Regions from separate parts of the Homo sapiens genome. Here region 2 is linked to region 1. The links come from fine-mapping of genetic effects on gene expression. A gene starts in region 1. The other region holds a variant in brackets. All regions are shown on one strand. Distances are from middle to middle.

What was found. PIP is the estimated chance that this variant, and not a neighbour inherited with it, causes the effect.
Region 2: its variant is fine-mapped to the expression of SLC1A5 in whole blood (INTERVAL, PIP 0.98).

Annotation. Positions count from the first base shown.
Region 1 is chr19:46,785,285-46,793,596 of GRCh38, forward strand. SLC1A5 (solute carrier family 1 member 5) reads right to left here and starts at 3,310. Exons shown (of 8, transcript NM_005628.3): 1 at 2,116-3,310. The coding sequence starts at 2,681. RefSeq lists enhancers at 1-569, 570-1,171, 2,978-3,579, 3,228-3,522 and silencers at 2,388-2,437, 2,448-2,497, 3,468-3,627.
Region 2 is chr19:46,809,794-46,818,118 of GRCh38, forward strand. It overlaps the pseudogene HNRNPMP2. Among named protein-coding and RNA genes, the nearest start is that of SNAR-E, 17 kb to the right of the region's middle. The variant G/A (reference allele first, on the strand shown) is at 4,922.

The sequences.
Region 1 (8,312 bases):
GTGGGAGGATCACTCAAGCCCGAGGAGGTTGAGGCTGCAGTGAACCAAGATCAAGCCACTGCATTCCAGCCTGGGACCGAGTGAGACTCTCTCAAAAAATATATATAGCAGCTAAGCCATCTACAGCACCTACCGTGTGGCAGGCAGGCATTTTGGCCTGTGCTTGACACAAATTAACCCATTTCATCCTCACGACAGCCTTGGGGATAATCACTATTACCCCATTTTACAGAAAAGGAAGCTGAGGCCCAGAAGGGTAAAGAAAATTGCCCAGCTGGGAAATAGCAGAGCTGGGATTTGAACCCAGCCAGCTGGCTCCATAGCCCCAAGCACTCCACATGCTCCCTCTCACCAATGACTGGTGTACAGCCAACGCCATGTGCCCATATACAATCTGTCAAATGTTAATAGTTTGGGTGCAGGTTAAGGTTCAGTAGTATGGGACAGTGTCCATGGATGGCCACCCATGCATCACGGTACAGTAAAATAACGTCATGGTAGAGGAATGAGTTTGGCCGGGTGCGGTGGCTCACGCCAGTAATTCCAGCCTTTTGGGAGGCTGAGGTGGGCAGATAACTTGAGGTCAGGGGTTCGAGACCAGCCTGGCCAACATGGCAAAACCCCGTCTCTACTAAAAACACAAAAATTATCCAGGCGTGGTGGCACACGGAAGGCTGAGGCACGAGAATCACTTAAATCCAGGAGGTAGAGGTTGCAATGAGCCAAGATCGCACCACTGCACTCCAGCCTGAGCAACAGAGACTGTCTCAAAAAAAAAAAAAAAAAGCATGAGTTTATTGGTGTGTGACCACATAGGTGTGTATGTGAGTGTGTATTGTGTGCTCTTGAGCCTGTGTTTAGATGTTGGCGTGGCTGGTGGCATCACTGAATGGCTGTGCTACAGGGGTCTTAGTACACAGTGAGCGTGTGTATGACCGCTGGTATCTGGCCATGTGTTTGTCGAGATGCTACAGCCTCAGCTGAGTGTCTGCGTGAATGTGTCCAGCTGTATGTCATTTGGTTATAAGCCTGTGTGGCAGGCCAAGTGTGAGCTACAGCTGTTTTGGCACGCAGGGGAGGCCTGTGCTCATAAACAGCCTCGGAGTGGGTGTGCCTGCCTGAAGGTCCGCCTGTACCACCCAGGCCCAGGCTGGGCCAGGACCCAGCTAATCTCCCCCAGCCAGAAGGTGCTCCCAGGCTTCAACTCGGGACACCAAGCCTGCCCCAGTCTCGCATCTCAGCCTGCACTGACGCCCCAGAGGCTGGAGAACCCTGTTCCGTGACTCATCATTTCCTTCCCCCAACTTCCAGGAAGTCCCCAACGTGGAGACACTGAATGAGCAAGCCCTAAAGGCAAGCGCAAGGGGGCCTCTGCCCCCCGCCCTCCTCAAAGTGGGGGAGGCCATTCTTGGGGGCGCGGGGCAGAGGCCAGGAGAAGGAAAAGAATCTGCTCCCCTTTCTAACTGGTCCTCTTCTGGGCTGCCTGCTAGGGGGTGGCCCAGACAGAGGAGGAAACGGGAGGGAAAGGCAGGGGTGGCAGGGCTGATCTAAAAGATAAAGGGGAAGCGGCCAGACCCCAGCTGAAATGGGCGGGAAGCGGAGGCCAAAAACAGAGCCTGGTTATGTCCGAGTGACACGTGGTGTGGGGGTGCCCCAGGGCTGGGAAGAGGGCCTGGTGGGAGTTACTCAGATCTCAGATCCTCCAGGGGCTCCTTACCCAAACTCTCCAACCCTGGCCCCAAATTATATCTAGAAGCCCCATCTTGGGGCCCTTGACCACGCAAAGATTCCCCCCGCAAAAGTTCCTCCTGGGGTCCCCTCCCCTCAGTGTCTTTCTCCCCTAGGCAGACCCTCCTATGTCTCCCCAAATCACTTTCTTCTCCCTCTATAAGACCCCACTTATGTACCCAGGCCCCCAGATTTAGAAACCCCTTCCCCAGGAGACTAGACTCACACTCCCGAGGGCTGGAGCCTCCCCTCAATATCCTGTCGAGTTTTCCTAAGACTCTAGAGGGAAGTCTCTGCTCCAGGGGCCCCAAAGCCCCGTCCTGTCCACGTGACCACTCCCGCCATCCGTAACACTCTTCCCCACCTCCCGGGGGAGCGGGAGCTGACCTCGCAAGATCCAGGAACGAATCGAGCACCTCCTTGCTGGGGGCATTTTCGGCACTGCCCGCGGCTCCCACGGAGGCGTTGATGGCGGCGGAGGCGGCGCCCGGCTGCAGAGCCAGCGCCAAGCCCACTCCGAGCGCCGACGCCAGCAGCGTGGTGACCAGGAAAAAGAGCAGCGCCCAGGCGCCCAGACGGCCGAGCGCGCCGGGGTCCAGGCTGGCGGCGCCGCCGATCAAGCTGCACACCACCAGCGGCAAGATGATCATCCGCAGCAGACGCAGCAGCAGCTCGCCCGGGAAGACGAAGGCGCTCAAGCGCTCCGGGCCCAACGCCAGCGCACCCCCGGCCCCCGACACCCCCAGTCCCAGCGCCACGCCGGCCACCACGGCCACCACTGTCAGCAGCACAAGCAGGTTGGCTCGAAGGCAGCGGCGCACCTGGTCCCGGGAACCGCAGTAGCCGCCTGCTGCCGCGCCTTGGTCCTCGATGGAGGCCAGCGCCAGGCCCCCGTTGGCGGTGGGCTCCGCCGCTGCGAGCCCCTTGGAGTCTCGAGGAGGATCGGCCACCATGATGGGAAGCACCGGGGTTTCTTAGCGCCTGGAAGCTGGCTGGGAGCGCTTGGGCTCCTTCCCAGGACCCGACGTTCCTAGGACTGAGTTGAGTAACAGCACCTGGAGACTGGAACTTTGGAGGGCTCCTTAGAGTTGTGAGTTCACAGCACTGAAGTTCCTTGGCTCTTGGAAGCTGGAGTGTTTAAATTCCCCAGGCTGGGCGCTGAGGCTTCTCTGCTCTGCCCCGTGTGCCAGATGTCCGAAAGCTGGGAGTTCGGAGCGCCCGGGTTCCTTGGCCCTAGGAGCTGGGAATACGAGAGTTTCTCTGGGTGGGACGTGGGGCCCTTGGCTCCAGGAGGTTGAGTGCCCCCAGATGGCGGAGGTCTGCAGGAGGCTAGGTTCTGGTGGCGCAGATCCCGGACGCCTGGATCCGGGAGGCGGGGACCCGGGCTGCCTGGGTCTTGGACACTGAGGGCTGGGATGCCAGAATCTGGGGGCCGGGAAGCGGACCTCCGGAAACAGGGGACCCAGGCTCTTAGGTCCGGGAGGGTGGGATGCGGGCCCCTGTGTACGGAAGGCGGTGGTCTGGTGTCCGGGAGTAGCGGTTACCAGCCAGAGAAAGCCTCCCGGGCGTGCCGCGTGGCTCTGAGCCCGTTTAGCGGAAGCTGCCAGGGATAAGGGTAGGGGGCGGGGCTTGAGAAGGCGGGGACCGACCCTCGGGCGCCGATTGGCTGCAGAGCGTTCGGAGACTGGACGAGTAGGGGCGGGGCTGATACCCGAGATGGGCCAGGTCCCCCATAGAAGGCAGATTAATAATACCCATCTCCAGGAGCCGGGCCCAGAGACGACGGGGCGGGGCCAGGAAGGGGCGGGGCCTTGGGAGGGTGCTGTTTCCCGCCAAAGGAACTGGGTTGTGGGTTGGAGCCCTTAAACCACAGGGGTTCGTTCCCTGGTGCGAGGGTCGCTAGAAAGCTCCGGTGGTCCTCGGTGATTCATTTGCAACTCAACTCAGCTTTGGAACTCCTCAGCCCTGAGTTTGGTCTTTAGTCGCCTCTGAGAACTTTAATTCCTCGAATATAAAGTGCAGGTGTTAAAAGCTTTTGTCTCATATGATTGCTGTAAGATTTAAATAAAATTGATGTATTTATTTAGGGAGCCGTGGCTCAAGCCTGTAATCCCACCACTTTGGGAGGTGAAGCGGGCGGATCACTTGAGGTCAGGAGGTCGAGACCAGCCTGGCCAACATGGTGAAACCCGTCTCTACTAAAAATACAAAAATTACCTGGTGTGGTGGCACGTGCCTGTAATCCCAGCTACTGGAAGCCTGAGGCAGGAGAATCGCTTGAACCCCAGAGGCAGAGGAAGTCATTCACCTTGAGGCCACACCTAGAGAGGATGACACGTGCATGCCCACCTCCCAAGCCCCTAACCGCACCCACTCTGCTGCCTCCCCAAATTCTCTGTTAGTGGCCGTTTGGGAGGTTAACAATGAATTATGATTCCTTACTCCACCTGACAGTGTTGAAATCCTCATTCCTTTCCCATCTCTAGCCTGTTCTGTGACATTTCAGGCTTTCATGCTTGCTCAAAGATTGTAGTGGTAATGTCAGAAGCTTCCTCCTACAGCAGCTGTGAGGCCTCAGGTAATTTACAACCTCTATGAGGCTCAGTCTTCATATGTGTAAATGGGAATAATAATAAGTCATACCGCCTTGAGTGTTGCAAGGGTTCAAATGAGATAATACGGCCGGGCGCAGTGGCTCACGCCTGTTATCCCACCACTTTGGGAGTTGATGCGGGCAGATCACTTGAGGTCAGGAGTTCCAGACGAGCCTGGCCAACATGGCAAAACCCTGTCTCTGCTGAAAATGCAAAAATTAGCTGGGTGTGGTGGCACATGCCTGTAATCCCAGCTACTCAGGAGGCTGAGGCAGAAGAATTGCTTGAATCCAGGAGGCAGAGGTTGCGAAGAGCCGAGATCTCACCACTGCACTCCAGCCTGGGTGACAGAGTGAGACTCCACCTCAAAAAAAAAAAAGTTATTTATTTGTGCTTTAAAATTTTTTGTTCTTTCTCTCTTCTTTTGTTTCTAACAAAAATGCCCTTCAGAAGAAAGTCAAATACTACTGCTGCGATTGCTGTTATTGTTATTATTACTGAAGAACAAGCTGGATTCAGTGGCATGCACCTGTAGTCCCAGGTATTTGGGAGGCTAAAGCAGGAGGATCCCTTGAGGCCAGGAGTTCAAGGCTGCAGTGAGCTATGATCGTGCCCACATTTAGCCACTAGACTCCATCCGGGGCAACATAGTGAGACCTTATCTTTAAAAACATGAAAATAGGCCAGGCATGGTGGCTCATGTCTGTAATCTCAGCACTTTGGGAGGCCAGAGTGGGCAGATCATGAGGTCAGGAGATCGAGACCATCCTGGCCAATATGGTGAAACTCTGTCTCTACTAAAAATACAAAAATTAGTTGGGCATGGTGGCATGCACTTGTAGTCCCAGCTACTCAGGAGGCTGAGGCAGGAGAATCGCTTGAACCCGGGAGGTGGAGGTTGCAGTGAGCCAAGATCACACCTCTGCACTCCAGCCTAGTGACAGAGTGAGACTCCGTCTCAAAATAAATAAATAAATATTTTAAAAAATTTTTCGGCCGGGCATGGTGGCTCACGCCTGTAATCCCAGCACTTTGGGAGGCCGAGGCGGGTGGATCACAAGGTCAGGAGATCGAGACCATCCTGGCTAACACGGTGAAACCCCGTCTCTACTAAAAATACAAAAAATCAGCCAGGCATGATGGCGGGCGCCTGTAGTCCCAGCTACTCGGGAGGCTGAGGCAGGAGAATGGTGTGAACCCGGGAGGCGGAGCTTGCAGTGAGCCGAGATCACGCCACTGCACTCCAGCCTGGGCGACAGAGCGAGACTCCGTCTCAAAAAAAAAAAAAAAAAAAATTTCACAGTGGCTTACACCCTTAATCCCAGCACTTTGGGAGGCCAAGGTGGGAGGCTCACTTGAGCCCAGGAATTTGAGACCAGCCTGGGCAACATGGCGAGACTCCGTCTCTACAAAAAAATTAAAAAATAAGCTGAGTGTGGTGGTATGCGCCAATAGTCCCAGCTACTTAGGAGGGTGAGGCGGGAGGATCGCTTGAGCCAGGAGGTCAAGGCTACAGTGAGCTGTAATCTCACCACTGCACTCCAGCTTAGGTGACAGAGCAAGACTCAGTCTAAAGGGAAAAAAGATTTAGGCTGGGAGCGGTGGCTCACGCCTGTAATCCCATCACTATGGGAGGCCAAGGCAGGTGGATCACTTGAGGTCAGGAGTTCAAGACCAGCCTGGCCAACATGGTGAAACCCCATCTCTACTAAAAATACAAAAACATGAAAATAGGCCAGGCACAGTGTCTCATGCCTGTAATCCCAGCACTTTGGGAGGCCTAAGTGGGCAGATCATGAGGTCAGGAGATGGAGACCATCCTGGCCAATATGGTGAAACCCTGTCTCTACTAAAAATACAAAAATTAGTTGGGCGTGGTGGCGGGCGGCTGTAGTCCCAGCTACTTGGGAGGCTGAGGCAGGAGAACTGCTTGAACCCAGGCGTCAGAGGTTGCAGTGAGCGGAGATCACACCACTGCACTCCAGCCTGGGCAACAGAGTGAGACTCTGTATCAAAAAAAAAAACAAAAAAACAAAAAATTCCTTGGCTGCTAGAGCTTGCATTCTAGTGCAGAGAGACAAGACAATAAACTTGGGCTTGGCCGGGTGCAGTGGCTTACACCTGTAATCCCAGCAGTTTGGGAGGCCGAGGCGGGCGGATCACTTGAGGTCAGGAGTTCAAAACCAGCCTGGCCGACATGGTGAAACCCCATCTCTACTAAAAATACTAAAAAATTAGCCGGGTGTGGTGGTCCACGCCTGTAATCCCAGATACTCGGGAGGCTGAGGCAGGAGAATCGCTTGAACCTGGGAGGCAGAAGTTGCAGTGAGCTGAGATCTCACCATTGCACTCCAGCCTGGGCAACAGAGCCAGACTCTGTATCACACACACACACACACACACACACACACACACAAAATCCTTGGCTGCTAGAGCGTGCATTCTAGTGCGGAAGAGACAAGACAATAAACTTGGGCTGTCAGCTGGAACTAAGCGTTGGGAGAAAGCAAAAGCATCCTATGAGTGACAGAGTGAACAGTTCAGCCACTGGAAGGAAGTGACATCTGCACTGAGATCTGAAAGATAAGAAGGAGCCCATGGCATAATGTGGAAACATTCAAAGGACGCGTGTGAAGCCCTGAGGCAACAGAGAGGTTTCCATCTCTGTTAGCAGTGCTCACAGACATGGTTTTATCCCCACTAATCCAGGAGACCAGCTCACACTCCCATTTTCCTGATTTGGAAGCAGATAAGGGTAATGAGGCTTGCTGTGGCCCAAACCCCAGGCATAAGCAAGAAATCTGAACTCAGATGTTTCTGATCCTTGTCTGCATCTCCTATCAGACACCCTGGCTACCCCTGCACTCGGCTGTCTCCAACTAGACATTTCCTTCAAGGGACAGTCATGTATTCTGAGCCCAGTGTTGGGTCCTGCGATGGGTGATACCAGGGACCCAGTGGCGAACAAGACAGTTCTGGCCCCGTTCTGCTGGGACTCAAAGTTCAGGGGGGGACACAGATAGTGATGATACAGAGTGGGCAGGGCTGGGATGGGGGAGCCCAGAAGGGATGCTTGACCAGGCTTGGGGGTCAGGGAGAGCTTCCTGGAGGAGGAGGCATCGGAGCTGGGATATGAAGGAGTTGGACCAATCCCAGGGAAAGAATATTCCAGACAAAGAGAATAGCACATGCAAAATCCCAGACTTCTGGCCAGGCATGGTGGCTCACGCCTGTAATCCCAGCACTTTGGGAGACTAATGCGGGTAGATTGCTGGAGACCAGGAATTCCAGACCAGCCTGGCCAACATGGCAAAACCCTGTCTCTTCTGAAAATAAAAAGTAAAAAAAATAGCCAGGACTAATGGCACACGCCTGTAATCCCAGCTATTCTGGAGGCTGAGGCAGGAGAATCACTTGAACCCAGAAGGCAGAGGTTACGGTGAGCCAAGATTGCACCACTGCACTCCAGCCTGGGCAATAAAGCAAGACTCTGTCTAAAAAAAAAAAAAAAAAAAAAATCCCAGACTTCAGAAGAGTCTGGAATATTTCAAAGCACAGATCTAACTGGGCCACCCCTACTCTCTGAACAGCCCCAGTGGCCTCCCTCAGGATGAAAACCACTCTTCAGCTAGGCATCTGTCCGCTTGGTGATTCATTTATTCATTCATTCAACAAACCACATCCACAGAATAGAAGACTGAGAGACATCAAATAGAAGGAGACGGATGCCCATGAGCTGACATGGGATCGTTGTGATGACTCATCTGGCCAATATTTATCAAACACTGAGAAAAACAGATGAGGAGCCGGGAGCAGTGGCTCACTCCTGGAATCCCAGCACTTTGGAAGGTTGAGGTGGGTGGATCTCTCAAGGCCAGGAATTCAAAACCAGCCTGGCCAACATGGTGAAACCTCATCTCAACTAAAAATACAAAAATTAGCGGGGCGTGGTGCTACCTACCCGTAATCCCAGCTACTCGAGTGGCTGAG
Region 2 (8,325 bases), 25 kb after region 1:
GCCAAGAGCCTCACGTGCATGGGCCTGGCCATGTGTGGCAGTGGCGGTGCCACCTTTGACCATGCCATCGGTATGGAGTGTGGCAACTTTGGAAGCTTTGCAGGTTCCCTTGGTGGAGCAGGAGACCATGCTCCTGGGCATGGCCAGGAAGGCATGCCAAATATTTGTAAGAAATCTCCCATTCAATTTTACATGGAAGATGCTAAAGGACAAATTCAACGAGTATGGCCACATGCTGTACACTGACATCGAAATGGAGAACGGGAAGTCCAAGGGGTGCAGTGTGGTTAAGTTTACGTCCCCAGAGGTGGCTGAGAGAGTCTGCCGGATAATGAACAACATGCAGCTGAATGGCCAAGACTGATGTTCAAATAAATAGAAATGCTTAAGCAGTTGCCTTTTTTAAACATCAATACCAGACCTCTGAATTTGTATTTTTTCTTGTTAACTTTTTTTTTTTTTTTTTGAGACAGGGTTTCGCTCTTGTCTCCCAGGCTGGAGTGCAGTGGCGCGATCTCGGCTCACCACAACCTCTGCCTCCCGGCTTCAAGAGATACTCCTGCCTCAGCCTCCTGAGTAGCTGGGATTACAGGTATGTAATACCATGCCGGCTAATTTTGTATTTTTAGTAGAGACAGGGTTTCTCCATGTTGGTCAGGCTGGTCTCGAACTCCTGACCTCAGGTGATCCGCCCACCCTTGGCCTCCCAAAATGCTGGGATTACAGGCATGAGCCACTGTGCCCGGCCCTCTTGTTAACCTTTTTATTTTTCTTTTCCTTTTTTTTTTTTTTGAGACACAGTCTCACTCTGTCGCCCAGGCTGGAGTATAGTGGTGCAATCTCAGCTCACCGCAACCTCTGCCTCCTGGGTTCAAGCGATTCTCGTGCCTCAGCCTCCCAAGTAGCTGCGACCACAGGCATGTGCCACCACGCCTGGCTAAGTTTTGTATTTTTAGTAGAGATGGGGTTTCACCATGTTGGCCAGGCTGGTCTCGAACTCCTGACCTCAAGTGATCCACCCGCCTTGGCCTCCCAAGTGCTGGGATTACAGGCATGAGCCACCACACTGGCTTTTTTTTTTTTTTTTTTTTTGAGACAGAGTCTCGCTCTGTCGCCCAGGCTCAGTGCAGTGGCGCGATCTCGGCTCACTGCAAGCTCCGCCTCCCGGGTTCACGCCCTTCTCCTGCCTCAGCCTTCCGAGTAGCTGGGACTACAGGCACGCGCCACCGCGCCCGGCTAATTTATTTATTTATTTTTATTTTTGTATTTTTAGTAGAGACAGGGGTTTCACCATGTTAGCCAGGATGGTCTCGATCTCCTGACCTTGTGATCCGCCTGCCTCAGCCTCCCAAAGTGCTGGGATTACAGGCATGAGCCACAGCGCCTGGCAGCTTTTTTTTTTTTTTTTTAATTTAGCATTTTAATTTTTTTTTTTTTTTTTTTTGAGACAGAGTCTCGCTCTGTTGCCAGGCTGGAGTGCAGTGGTGCAATCTCGGCTCACTGCAACCTCCAACTCCCTGGTTTAAGCGATCTTCCTGCCTCAGCCTCCTGAGTAGCTGGGATTACAGACACGTGCCACCACATCCAGCTAATTTTTTTTTCTTTTTTTTTGTATTTTTAGCGGAGACGGGGTTTCACCATGTTGGCCAGGATGGTTTCGAACTCTTGACTTCGTGATCCACCTGCCTCAGCCTCCCAAAGTGCTGGGATTACAGGTGTGAGCTACCGCGCCTGGCCAATCATTTTATTATTTATTTATTTATTTATTTACTTTTGAGAGAGTCTCGCTCTGTTGCCTACGCTGTAGTGCAGTGGCACAGTCTCAACTCACTGCAAACTCTCTCTCTCAGGTTCAAGCAATTCTCCTGACTCAGCCTCCCAAATAGCTATACTACAGGCACTCACCACCACACGGGGCTAATTTTTTTTGTATTTTTAGTTTCACCATGTTGGTCAGGCTGGTCTCACCTGACCTCAGGTGATCCACACACCTTGGCCTCTCAAAGTGCTAGGATTATAGGCATGAACCACCACGCCAGACCACTTGTTAACCATTTTAATTTGTTGGCTGGATGTATAAAGATGTTAAAAAAGCTTGAACCCAGGGAGGCAGAGGTTTCAGTGAGCCAGAGATCGTGCCATTGAGCTCTAGCTGGGCGACAAGAGCAAAACTCTATCTCAAAAAGAAAAAAAAAAAAGAAAAAGATGGTAAAAAAAAAAAAAAAAAAAACCAGTTGCTTTTTGGGCTAATTTAATTACTTTTTTAAATGACTGGTGTTCCATTTGACTGTTTGCCTTGAGATTGCACTGTGCGCAATTTTTTTTGTAGTTATGGTGTCTTCTTGACATTGAATATGATTTTGATAATAAATACTGGTTCTTGAAAAAAAAATTAGCCAGGTGTGCTGGTGCACGCCTATAGTCCTAGCTACTTAGGAGGCTGAGGTGGGAGGATGGCTTGAGCCCAGGAGTTGGAGGATGCAGGTGAGCCCTAATTGTGCCACTACACTGCAGCCTGGGTGACAGACAGAGAGACAGAGAGACCCTGTCTCAAAAATAAATAAATGAGGCCAGGCAAGGTGGCTCAGGCCTGTAATCCCAGCACTTTAGGAGGCCGAGGTGGGCAAATCACGAGATCAAGAAATCGAGACCATTCTGGCCAACATGATGAAACCCTGTCTCCACTAAAAATACAAAAATTAGCTGGATGTGGTAGTGCGCGCCTGTAGTCCCAGCTACTCGGGAGGCTGAGGCAGGAGAATTGCTTGAACCCGGGAGGCGGAGGTTGCAGTGAGCTGAGATCGCACCACTGCACTCCAGCATGGGTGACAGAGCAAGATTCAGTCTCAAACAAAAACAAAAACAGAAAACAAAATTAGCTGGGCCTGGTGGCACATGCCTGTAGTCCCAGCTACTTGGGAGGCTGAGGCAGGAGAATCGCTTGAACCTGGGAGGTGGAGGTTGCAGTGAGCTGAGATCGTGCCGTTGCACTCCAGCCTGACTGACAAGAGCAAAACTTTATCTCAAATAAATAAATAAATTAAATAAATGAAAGTTGCAGACACATGTGAATGACCTGGGCAGCATTTCTCCACCTGCGCTTGCATTTGCTAGACAGTCTGTGACTCTCTGTGGGAGAAAACACAAGAAACCGGCCCCTCTGCTGGTTCCCCACCTGGCCTGGCTCTCCTGTTCTCCACCCTGCACACTCATGCCTCGGAACCTGCTTCTCCTCTGAGCCTCCCTCACAGTGGCCCGGCCCACGTGGCCTTTAATCTGCCCACATCAGAGCCTCCACCTCCGGCCTATGGCCCATCAGAGGCAGCTGGAGCCGGGCATCCTCCCCACGTGGGCCTTTGAGGATGGGATGAAGGAAGCTGAGCGGAGGTCGCAGTGCCTCCCAGGAGGGGCCTGGAGGGGAGGGAACAGGGGAGAGGAGAAGGTTTTTCCACTGTGTCCCCTCCTGTGACTGTAGAAATGAGCCATGTGACTTCAATTACCTATTAACATTTTTTGAAGTGTTCTATAAAAAGTGCCAGCCTCGGGCTACCGTGGGGAGCAGGGAAGGAGGAGGGTGAGTCCAGGCGTGAGGAGGCCGGAGCGGTGACCCGGGAGTGGGGACGGCCGGGGCTGCCAGGCAGTCACAGCCTGTCCCAGAAGGCCCCGTGGTGGAATGCTGTGCAGAAAGTCCTTAGAAGGCTCTGGCGGGGGCGGCCTGTCCCTCAGCACCCTCCTCTCTAAGCCAACTTCAGGGTTTCCCGGAAAGGCATCTCCTCCACCACCTCTGCCCCTACCCAAAATGATCCCCAAATGTCTGGTGGATAAAAACTCTCGATCTTTCCTTCGCACTAGGTCTGTAAGGGTGGGAGCTGACTCACATCTGGCCCTCCACCTCCACCCTTCTCCTCTCTCCTCCCCGCCTCCTTCTCTCTCACCTCTGTCCTCTCCCTTCCTCTCCCTCCTCTCCCTCTTTCCCTCCTATCCCTCCTCCTCCCTCCAACCCCTCCTCCTCCCACTGCCTCTCCCACCCTCCCTCCTTTCAGCGAGACACAACCTCCTCCAGGGCCCCCAAAACACCAACCCTCTCTCTGCTCCACACCTTTGCCCCTGCTGTTCCCTGGTAGATTTCATTTGAATTTCTCTGATGATTCATGACATTGAGCATCTTTTCGTGTGCATTATGGGCCATTTGTATGTCTTCTTTGCAGAAATGTCTATTCAAGTCCTTTGCTCATTTTTGAATCGGGGTGCCTGGAACTCTCTGCCCTCATCCCCGCCCCCGCCACCTCTTCACCAAACCCTGTTTTCTCCTGGAGATCTTGGATCCTTCCTTCATCTAACAAATATTTGCCGGACGTCAACCCTGTGTCGGGCACCCTGCCAGGGATTGGGGAACACAGGGTTAGGAGAGGCTACATTGTAGTGGAGAAGGCAGGAAATAAAGGAGTCAACAGAGACTGCAAACAAGGGAATGTTTTCTTTTCTTTTTTTTTTTTTTCTACAGTGTTCATGGGCTTGATTTAAAAGCTTGCTTATTTATTTATTTATTTATTTATTCATTCATTCATTTATTTATTTTTGAGACAGGGTCTCATTCTGTCACCCAGGCTGGAGTGCAGGGCGTGATCTCCACTCACTGCAACCTCTGCCTCCTGGGTTCAAGTGATTCTTTTGCCTCAGCCTCCTGAGTAGCTGGGATTACAGGCGCCCGCCACCACGCCTGGCTAATTTTTATATTTTTTGGTAGAGACAGGGTTTCCCTGTGTTGGCGAGGCTGGTCTCGAACTCCTGGCCTCAAGTGATCCTCCTGCCTCAGCCACCCAAAGTCTGGGATTACAGACATGAGACACAGTGCCCAGCCAAAAGCTTATCTTTCTTATTTATTTATTTATTTATTTTTGAAACAGAGTCTCACTCTGTC[G/A]CCCAAGCTAGAGTGCAGTGGCACAATCTCAGCTCACTGCAACCTCCACCTCCCAGTTTCAAGTGATTCTCCTGCCTCAGTCCCCTGAGTAGTTGGGATTGCAGGTGTGCACCACCACACCCGGCTAGTTTTTTCTGTTTTTAGTAGAGACAGGATTTCACCATGTTGGCCAGGCTGGTCTCGAACTCCTGACCTCAGGTGATCTGCCCACCTCGGCCTCCCAAACTGCTAGGATTACAGGCTTAAGCCACCGTACCTGGCCTATTTGTTTTTGGAGATGAGGTCTCGCTATTTTCCTCAGGCTGGACTCAAATTCCTGGGCTCAAGTGATCCTCCCACCTCAGCCTCCCAAAATCCTAGTGTTTACAGGTGTGAGCCCCAGCACTTGACATAAGAGAACTATTTTAAAATTTATTTTTAGAGACAGAGTCTCACCCCATCACCCAGGCTGGAGTGCAGCAGTGTGATCATAGCTCACTGCAGCCTTGAACTCCTGGGCTCAAACAATCCTCTCAACTCAGCCTCCTGAGTAGCTGGGACTACAGGCGTGCACCACCATGCCCAGCTAATTTTTTTGATTTTTTTGTAGAGATGAGGTCTCACTATGTTGCCCAGACTGGTCTTAAACTCCTGGGCTCAAGGGATCCTCCTGCTTCAGCCTCCCACAGTGCTGAGATTACAGGCATGAGCCACTGCACCTGGCCAAGACAATTTTTTGAAAGAGCTCAGTGCTGCAAGAAGAATTCGTCTGCAATCTGAGTGAGGATAAGGAACCTGCCTGATGAGGGACTGAGAAGAGAGAAGCTGGCAAAAGAAATAGCAAGTGCAATGAACCAGACGTGAGAATGAACTTGAAGTGGTCAGGAATCAGATGGAGACCAGGGGCCATGGCTCACACCTGTAATCCCAGCACTTTGGGAGGCCAAGGCGGGTGGATCATCTGAGGTCGGGAGTTCAAGACCAGCCTGGCCAACATAGTGGAACCCCGTCTCTACTAAAAATACAAAAATTAGCTGGGCATGTTGGCGGGCGCCTGTAATCCCAACTACTTGGGAGGCTGAGGCAAAAGAATTGCTTGAACCCAGGAGGTGGAGGTTGTAGTGAGCCGAGATCACGCCACTGCACTCCAGCCTGGGCGACAGAGCGAGATTCTGTCTCAAAATAAATAAATAAACAAAAATGAAAAGAATTAGAAGGAACAGGGTGGCTGGATTCAAGGGATTGTGGGGAAGTGTCATCAGATGTGGCTGAAGAGGTAGGTTGAGATGGGCATCATAGACTCTGTGAAGAACTTAAGAACCTCCTCTTCCAGGAAGCCCTTCTTGACTGCATCAACTAGGTTTTCCCATCCCAGCCCTGTTCCCACTAGGTTGTTGCTCTTGGGGCACTGGCCTATCTGCTCCGCTGGCCTGTGAGCCCTCTGACGGCCAGGCCAGTCACCACTATGTCCTCAGCATCACCTAGCACAGGCCTGAGCACACAGGAGGTGGTCGGTAAATGCCCAGGTCATTCTGGCACTGCCAGCAAGCCCCAAGAAGCATCCCTTGCTCTGCCTCCCCGCCGCGCACCTCTGTTCCTGGGCGTAGCACCAGGGATTCCTGAGTTCCCCGTTTGGCCATTCACACTGGTTTCAGCCTAGCCTCTTTCATCCCATCCTCAAAGGCCCATGTGGGGAGGAGGCCGGGATCCAGCCGCCTCTGATGGGCTGCAGGCCGGAGGTGAAGGCTCTGAAGTGGGCAGATCAAACGCCATGTGGGTTGGGCCGCCGTTGGGGAGGCTGAGAGGAGACGCAGGTTCCCAGGCATGAGTGTGCAGGGTGGAGAACAGGAGAGCCAGGCCAGATGGGGACCAGCAAAGGGGCCCATATGTTCACCCGTCTTTATAATAACACAGCTTCCAATTGTTGATTCATTACGGCCAGGTACAGGGTTAATTTTTTTTTTTTTTTTTTTTTTGAGACAGGGTCTCACTCTGTCACCCAGACTGGAGTGCTGTGGTGACATCATGGCTCACTACAGGCGTGTGCTACCATGCCTGGTTTATTATTTTTAAAAATGTTTTGTAGGCTGGGTATGGTGGCTCAAGCCTGTAATCCCAGCACTTTGGGACGCTGAGGCGGACGGATCACCTGAGGTCAGGAGTTCAAGACCAGCATGGCCAACATGGTGAAACTCCATCTCTACTAAAAATACAATAATTAGCCGGGTGTGGTGGCAGGCACCTGGAGTCTCAGCTACTAGGGAGGTTGAGGCAGAAGAATCGCTTTAACCCAGGAGGCGGAGGCTGCAGTGAGCCAAGATCACGCCACTGCACTCCAGCCTGGGTGACATCACGAGACTCTGTCTCAAAATAGAAAAAAATGTTTTGTAGAAACAGGATCTCACTATGTCACCCAGGCTGGAGTGGAGGCACCGTTGTAGCTCAATCCAGCCTCGAACTGCTGAGCTCAAGTGATCCTCCCACCTCAGCCTCCCAAAGTGCTGAGATTATGGGTATGAGCCACCATGCCCAGCTAAAAGTCAATTCTTTTGATAGAAAGGTCAGAAGAGCAGAGAAGATCAAACAGCTGGTTCATGTGCTGATGGGAATGATCTGGATTTCTAGATTCCAGAAGAGAAGCAAGAGAGGAAAGTGGCTGGATTGTTGTCGTTGAGTAAGCAAGAGGGGAACCATCCCTAGGCTCAAGAGAAGAGGTCTTGAGAAAGAGTATATGGCAGCCAGGCGCGGTGGCTCACACCTGTAATCCAAGTACTTTGGGAGGCCGAGGCGGGCGGATCACGAGGTCAGGAGATCGAGACCATCCTGGCTAACATGGTGAAGCCCTGTCTCTACAAAAAAAAAAATTACAAAATATTAGCCAGGTGTGGTGGCAGGCACCTGTAATCTCAGCAACTCAGGAGGCTGAGGCAGGAGAATTGCTTGAACCTGGAAGGTGGAGGTTGCAGTGAGCCGAGATCACGCCATTGCACTCCAGCCTGGGCTACAAGAGTGAGATTCCGTCTCAAAAAAAAAAAAAAAGAAAGAAAGAAAGAGTATAAGGCACTCTGAGAGGCTGAGGCGGGCGGATCACTTGAGGCCAGGAGTTCGAGACTAGCCTGGCCATCATGGCGAAACCCCATCTCTACTAAAAATATAAAAATTAGCTGCTTGTGGTGGTGCGTGCCTATAGTCCCAGCTACTCTGAGGCACGAGAATCACTTGAATCCAGGAGACAGAGGTTGCTGTGAGTAGAGATCACACCACTCCACTCCAGCCTGGGTGACAGAAAAAAAAAAAAGAAAGAAAGAGTGTATAAGGCTGGACACAGTGGCTTATGCCTCTAATCCCAGCACTTTGGGAGGCGGAGGCTTTCAAATCACTTGAGGCCAGGGGTTTGCGACCAGCCTGGCCAACATAGTGAGACC